2 linked regions of the Homo sapiens genome follow. The protein of the gene in region 1 interacts with the protein of each later gene in a pairwise test. Each region holds a gene or a part of one and is shown on either strand. Other genes may lie near its edges.

The links.
Region 2: the proteins of AAGAB (region 1) and HEATR1 interact in a two-hybrid assay, tested with the Homo sapiens proteins (one large-scale study listed by BioGRID).

What each region holds. Positions count from the first base shown.
Region 1 is NC_000015.10:67,234,162-67,237,987, reverse strand, and holds part of AAGAB (alpha- and gamma-adaptin-binding protein p34), read left to right. Parts: intron 1-1,167; coding exon 1,168-1,358; intron 1,359-1,483; coding exon 1,484-1,580; intron 1,581-1,919; coding exon 1,920-2,009; intron 2,010-3,826. UniProt on the Homo sapiens protein: May be involved in endocytic recycling of growth factor receptors such as EGFR.
Region 2 is NC_000001.11:236,597,908-236,601,733, forward strand, and holds part of HEATR1 (HEAT repeat-containing protein 1), read right to left. Parts: intron 1,718-3,826; coding exon 1,576-1,717; intron 73-1,575; coding exon 1-72. UniProt on the Homo sapiens protein: Ribosome biogenesis factor; required for recruitment of Myc to nucleoli. Involved in nucleolar processing of pre-18S ribosomal RNA. Required for optimal pre-ribosomal RNA transcription by RNA polymerase I.

The sequences.
Region 1 (3,826 bases):
CCTAGCAGTCTTTTGGACTAAATAATTTCCCCATAACTTTATGTTGAGCAAAAATGATGGCAACTTTTCAAATATATAATGTTAGCTCTGGGAGTTAAAATTTAATTTCTAGTTTTCAGTGTCTTGCTAATTATGAGTTTGAGGCACATTTCATTAATACGTGTTCATCTTAGTATGCATTGACGAGGAGTTTGTGACTGTTTTTCATTATATTCTTCTGATAAGTCAATTAATGGCATGTCATTTTACTTCTATAAGCTGATTTTCCACATTTGTATAAAGTGGAGGTTATGGGTATGGGTGTGAGAGACGGGAGTTTAGGTTGGAACAACTTCTAACTTCTCTTCCAGTTGTAAATACTGTATAACATAATGGAAGCAAAATGCTTCCATGGCTCCATAACCATGTCTATATTCATTTGTTCACCATTGACTTGTCTCTTACTGTGGGGATTTCCTGTTATATACATGCTGCACATAGATTTCCAAAAGATTCAGTTATAATCTAAAACATTTATAGTAATTTGCTTGGCTATTACACATTTAAAATTTATCGGAAGTGTCTTGATCAAACAAGAATTTAGGTTGGCTTTCAAAGAATGTGAACAAGGCTGAATATAAATAGGATTGGGGTCATTTATCAGTATCCATTCTTTTATTTCATTAGCTGAATTAATGTCTAAGCATTCAGTCCAAGAAATATATGTAGCTCTTCTATTTTATTAATGGTTTAGCCTTAATCCTATCTTCCTTTTAGTTTGCAATAAGTACAAAATAGTTACAAATTCTAGAAGATTGTTATTGTCTACCTCCTATGAAGTACTTAAGCAATACAATAAATAGAGCTGTCATTCTTTGTCTTCTACTTGCTCTTTTCTGGATATTTGGTTATATGACTGTTTTTTCCTTTACTACTGTCTAATCTAGTTCACAATGATTTTTGTGTTCTTAAAGAGAAAATGTCAATGACTTAAATTATATCACCATAACTTTTATAATCAGATGATCAGAGAATATAGGATTAAAGCTAATAAATGCAGGGTCCTTTGAAATCCTCACATAAAAGGAAACAGCAAAAGTACCAGCTTTATCTGGTATCTGACTGAGAAAATCAACCAATGTATATTGGTTTTGCACTTTACATGGTAATGTTGTCATTTATTTTTAGATATCCTTGGAACAGAAGATCTTATTGTGGAAGTGACTTCCAATGATGCTGTGAGATTTTATCCCTGGACCATTGATAATAAATACTATTCAGCAGACATCAATCTATGTGTGGTGCCAAACAAATTTCTTGTTACTGCAGAGATTGCAGAATCTGTCCAAGCATTTGTGGTTTACTTTGACAGCACACAAGTAAGACTTTGTTTTCTATGAAGGCTTGAATAAGAAATTATTGCATGCCTTCTTTTTTTCCCATTACATTTTGTCTGACTATCTCTTTTCTGTTTTTGTTTGTTTATATTTTTTGTTCCCTCTAGAAATCGGGCCTTGATAGTGTCTCCTCATGGCTTCCACTGGCAAAAGCATGGTTACCTGAGGTGATGATCTTGGTCTGCGATAGAGTGTCTGAAGATGGTAAGGCCTGTGGATGGGACAGTAGTTGGTACATGCATTTGCCATTCCTTGATAAACAGAGTACATCTGTTTCTTTAACTTAGGACATACATCCCATGTGACTTTATGGCTTTATGAAAATATTTTCAGCTATTTTTCTTTGGAATCTTGTAATACTTACTTTTTTTTTAAGAATGGATACTTCGGGGCTGAGAAGTCATTTTCTTTTTATTATTTTAGATGCCTTTAGAATAACATTGACATTAAGGGAAACACATTGAGATTTGTGAAGAATATTGCAGGAATAGTCATGTTTTATTTTCTTTTTACTTATGAAGATTCTTTTGCATATTATTTTAGGTATAAACCGACAAAAAGCTCAAGAATGGTGCATCAAACATGGCTTTGAATTGGTAGAACTTAGTCCAGAGGAGTTGCCTGAGGAGGATGGTAAGTGTTTATGTGTTAGGAGAAAATATGGCACTTAGATATGAGAGATTATTTTAATTCAGGGAAGAAGAATCACAGCAAAATTCAAGAAACTTTTTTCCCCAGCTGTTTCAAGGATTTAAGCAAAATCCATTGATGTAATCTTATAATCTTACACTTAGTGTAATAATTCATTTTTTTGGTTTTACCACCTGTTTTAGAACTTTTGAAAATGTGTGTTTTTCTTATGGATAAAGGTATAGGGCTGCTTTCTAAAATCTTTGTCATTTCCATAATCCTTTTTCCTTTCCCTACTGCTGAAGAAGGAGAGTTAGACCTTCGTAGTAGTTAAAGTTGATGTTTCTTATTTTGAATTCATAGTAACCTAAGGCTGAATTCCCAAGAATCGCAGGGGACATTTCAAATCCATTTGAATGTCTTTTGGACATTTGAAGCCAAAAGATAGACCCCAAATTTAATCCCCCACCTCCACCCCAGGTAGCTCTGCAATCGCTGTCCTCCGCTATTGCTGGACCTTCTATTTCTTCCCCTCTTCTACTCCCCTTCCCCATTTCTTTTCTCATCTTTTCTCCTTTGAAGTACACCTGTTTTGGTATCTACCAGGATAAGAGGGTTTTTGGTTCACCAAAACCTTATAATCTGGTACAAGAGATGAAACTTACAGATAATTGAATTACCAAGTGGAATGTCATAAGTATTATAGAAGAAATAGTAGTGCTGTGGTATTTTAGAGACCGGAGAGCTTATTTTTGTTTAAAAGTGCAGAGAACGTGTTGGCATTGTGACCTCTCACATGTCAGCTGCTCCATGGGGAAGAAGTTAGAAAAGGTCCTGGGCTTGTAGTGAGAGGACTGCTGGAGAGGTGGCATTGTGAATATGCCAGTTGTTCCAAAAGACATTCTGGGCAGGGGCAACCAACGTGAATTAAAGTACATAGATAAGACATAAGCAGTCATTTCAAGAAACTTGTATTTTTCTTCAAGGAATTAAGAAATATTTTTCTATATTCTGGTTTTATTTATAATTTTTCCAAAATGCTGTTACCTTTGAGAATAAAACCTGCTGGAGAAGAAGAGAACAAAACTGAAATAAAAACTCTGGTTTTTCTCCTTGCTCATTTTAAAGAGTGTTGAAAATTAGCATGTACATCTTTTTCTGTGTTTTTCTAGGTCCCTGAAACTTGTGCCCTGTTTTGTGTATGTGAGCCTGTGTGATTTCTGGCACTAGAATTTTCTCTTTCTCTTGTCCTTGGGAGTCAGTATTTGACTGTTATCATTTTGGAATCTCTGCTCCTTTATACTACTTTATTTCTCGTAGCCCTTTGTCTGAATAATGTTCTTGTATTCATTCAGCTTAATCTTAAAATGGGTTTTTTGATATGTCATCTTTAGGTAAGGTAATGAAAACCTTCCTAGACTTTTAAAATACAAATTATTCCTAAGCCATATTTCCTCATCTTTTACTTGCATGTATTATTCAAACATGAATATAGGACTTTATGCTAGTTTGTATTAATTTTCCTCTTACTGGTACTAGCTCTTCATTTCAGACCACATTTTTGGTTCCTGGTTATATCATCTAAAGTATTAGTTATTCTTTTGAGAATTAAGTCATTCACAATTAAGATAAACATGACTTTTAGGTCTTCATCCAGACATTGGTGGTGATAAACTTATCTTGGTAGAGTATTTTCTTTCTTTATTTTTATTTATTTATTTATTTATTTGAGACAGAGTCTCTCTCTGTTGCCCAGGCTGGAGTGCAGTGGCACGATCTCTGCTCACTGCAAGCTCCACCTCCTAGATTCACGCCATTCT
Region 2 (3,826 bases), on another chromosome or scaffold:
GAAATCCATGAATCCAAGATCTTTGTAGCAGTGGGTAATCAAAGTTCCTTTAGCTAACGGCACTCCAGATTGCTGTTATTGATGGAAAGAACAAACTACTAGCAACATTCATCAACTGATCCTTATTTTAAAGCATTTACCCTAGTAATGTCTTCATACTGCTACAATTCATAAATAAAAAATATAATCTCTCCTTATAACTGGTGGTGGTGATGAAATTAACACATAAAATCATGTAAACTTAGAAATTCAAAAGAGAAGGTCAGCAATGAGGGCAGAGGTATTTAGTGAAAGATGTTTGCTTATCGTATGTCACATTTTGAAAGGTATTTATCAAAATCTGGATTCTCTAGATTCTTAGTAACTTTACTGGTTCGATTTGGTTTCTGAGCCACTATGATACGCTTCTGTCATTGCTTTACAATAACACTAAGAACAGAAATAGACTAGGAAACTGCACAACTTATACCACTATTCCCACCATCTAGCGTTGTACATGGTATGTAATAGATGCTCCATAAATACTGATTAAATAAATGAAAGGAGAATTTTAAGTGAACTTTAGTAGGTGAGTGGAGTTTGGCTACCTGCAATAAGAGTGCCTAGGGAGCAGCAAGATCCAAGGTAGATTAGAGGAAGAATAATTTTGATGCTATGGGCAGAGTGAATGTTGGGAAGAGCAGTTAATGAGCTTTATCAAAGGCTGGCCTTCTCCAACATTCTTTAGTTCAAGTGCTTTACGTTCAGATTCTTAAATTCTCCTTCTAATTAAAAAGTCCTCATTACTCCTATCTTACTAATTCTGAACACTGACCCCACTACCATCATCAGCCTAATGTGCACAGCCTCGTGATCTGTTAGCTTACCTTCATCCCCATTTGCCTCCCCCCCTACCCTGGATCACCATGCCCAACATGCAGTCAAGTTCCTGCTAACAACATACATCTACTTTCCTCCACCATATGTTGCAAACAAAGTGCTAACGGTTAGTCAGTTGGTTTTCCTACAATAGCATGCTGTCTTTTCTTACCCAGACCCTTCCTGTTATACAAGCATCCTTTTCTTAGTCTGTAAATTAACTCCTAGCATCTTCCTCACAACTTTAGTAAATTCTTGAAACCCCTGAAGTTATCCTTATCCTTTTAATTTTTGTAAGTATTTTCTGCCTTTCTTCACCTTCAACTTTTTTTTAAGTTCTCAGTTCCAAATTTAAAATGCCAAACGGCATGGTACGATACAAAGGCACAGACTCTGGAATCAGATTTGGGTTCAAATCTCAACTCTGCCACTTTATAGTTATGTGAACTTTGGCAAGTAGCCTGTCCTCATCTGTAAAAATGAAGTTTTGTGATAATCCAAGATAATATAATGTACATTGCCTAGCCTGATGTCAGATACTAAATAAAAGCTAAATATTATTAACATTAATAATAGTTTCAATTGGAAGTCAGGAAATAAAAATGATGGAGGTAGTTATCTGGACTATCCCCAGGAGCAATGACTTATTTTTTCCTAATTAAATCCCTTAATCAAGATCTGTAATGATTACAGACATATGTCATTCAGCAATTATACCTTAACTGGCAACAACCAGAACCATCTGTGCTTTGAATTATTAATTTTTAGAAGCTGTATGACTCGCACAAATATTCTTGTCTCGTGGTATGGCAGAACACAAGCAATGAGGCTATCTTGATTATAGAGATGTATATGGAACCTGGGGAAAAAAAGCAAACAGTCCAACTGAACACAAAACTTAATAATAAGCACCTATTTCCTCACATGCCCAAACTGTATTATTAATAAGCTAAAACAACCTAGAACGAGTAGCAGTAAAAATCACAAAATTATAAGATACAGAGCATTTAAAAAGTCCCCAATTTTGCATTCACATATCCCTCAACATGGTCCAGCCAATTCCTATGCAATATCTTTGAATATTCTACATCAAAATATACATCCCATTAACTTTCTCTCAGCTTTACAATTTTTATTTAATTTTTTGAATAGAGTCTTGCTCTGCCACTCAGGCTGGAGTGCAGTGGCACGATCACGGGTCACTGCAGCCTCAACCTCCCAGGCTCAAATGATCCTCCCACCTAGGTCTCCTGAGTAGCTGGGACCACAGGGGAGCACCATCACAGCTGGCTAATTTTTTATTTCTGTGTAGAGACTAGGTCTCCCTGTGTTGCCCAGGCTGGTCTGTCAACATTTTTTTTTTTTTTTTTTTTTTTTTTTTTGAGAGGGAGTCTTGCTGTTGCCCAGGCTGGAGTGCAGTGGCACAATCTCGGCTCACTGCAACCTCCACCTCCAAGTTTAAAAGATTCTCCTGCCTCCGCCTCCCAAGTAGCTGGGACTACAAACTCATACCACCATGCCCAGCTAATTTTTTTTTTTTACTTTAGTAGAGATGGGGTTTCACCATGTTGCCCAGGCTGGTCTCCAACTCCTGAGCTCAGGCAATCTACCTGCCTCAGCCTCCCAAAGTGCTAGGACTACAGGTGTGAGCCACCATGCCTGGCTAAGATGTTTTTTCTAATTCTGCCAACTGATCCCTCTTCTGTGAAAACTCTCCTATCCTTTTACATCGTGTACTTTTTTTAAACAGTACCATACATTGCCTTTTATTAGATTTTTTTTTTTTTCCAGAGTCTACTTGGTCACCCAGGCTGGAGTGCAGTGGTGTGATCTCAGCTCACTGCAACCTTCGCCTCCCAAGTTCAAGCGATTCTCATGCCCTAGCCTCCCAAGTAGCTGGAATTACAGGTGCACAGCACCACACCCAGCTAATTTTTTTTTGTATTTCTAGTAGAGACAGGGATTCACCATGTTGGTCAGGCTCGTCTCAAACTCCTGATCTCAAGTGACTGGCCTGCCTCAGCCTCTCAAAGTGCTGGGATTACAGGCGTGAGCCACTGAACCCAGCCTCTTAGTTTGACATACGGTTTTAGCGGTTACTTTTTCCATGAAGCTTTCTTCAACTATTCCAGGCAGAACTATATCCACAAAACTCTGCTTAATCCTTTATTATGGCATTTATTTCAAAACAGTAATCAACGGCAACCTACTTATCTATGTACTGAACTTAGTATTTGCTGAATAAATAAGTTATCTGAAGACATAAAATGAAAAATCAAATGCAAAAAGTATTCCTTACATTAATGATCTATTTGGGGGTAAAGTTAGGTGCTAGAAAACAGATGGAAATATTACAGACTTTTAAATATTCTTTGTCTGATTGCCCTAATGTTCTGACAATCAGAAGACCCAAGTTAAAATCATGTTTTCTTGATGACTCACTTGCTTCTTGAAAAAAAATTAGTTTATCCCCACGTCTCCATTTTTTGTTTTTTTTTTTTGATACGGCGTCTCCCTGTTACCCAGGCTGGAGTGCAGTGGCGTGATCTCAGCTCACTGCAAAATCTGTCTCCTGGATTCAAGCAATTCTCCTGCCTCAGCCTCCCAAGTAGCTAGAATTACAAGTGCTCGCCACTGCGCCCAGCTAATTTTTGTATTTTTCACACAGACAGGTTTTACCATGCTGGCCAGGCTGGCCTTGAAGCCATGTCTCCAATTAATGGAATAGAAATCTACTTTTAAAACATGTAAGTTGGACTGGATGTGGTGGCTCATGCCTGTAACCCCAGCACTTTGGGAGGCCGACTCGGCAGGAGGATCGCTTGAGGCCAGGAGTTCCAGACCAGCCTGGGCAACAAAGTGAGACACTGTCTCTACAAAAAATGGAAAAACAAAAACAAAAACAAACAAACAAAAAAAAAACTAGGTGGGCATGGTGGTGCATGCCTGTAATCCCAGCTACTTGGGT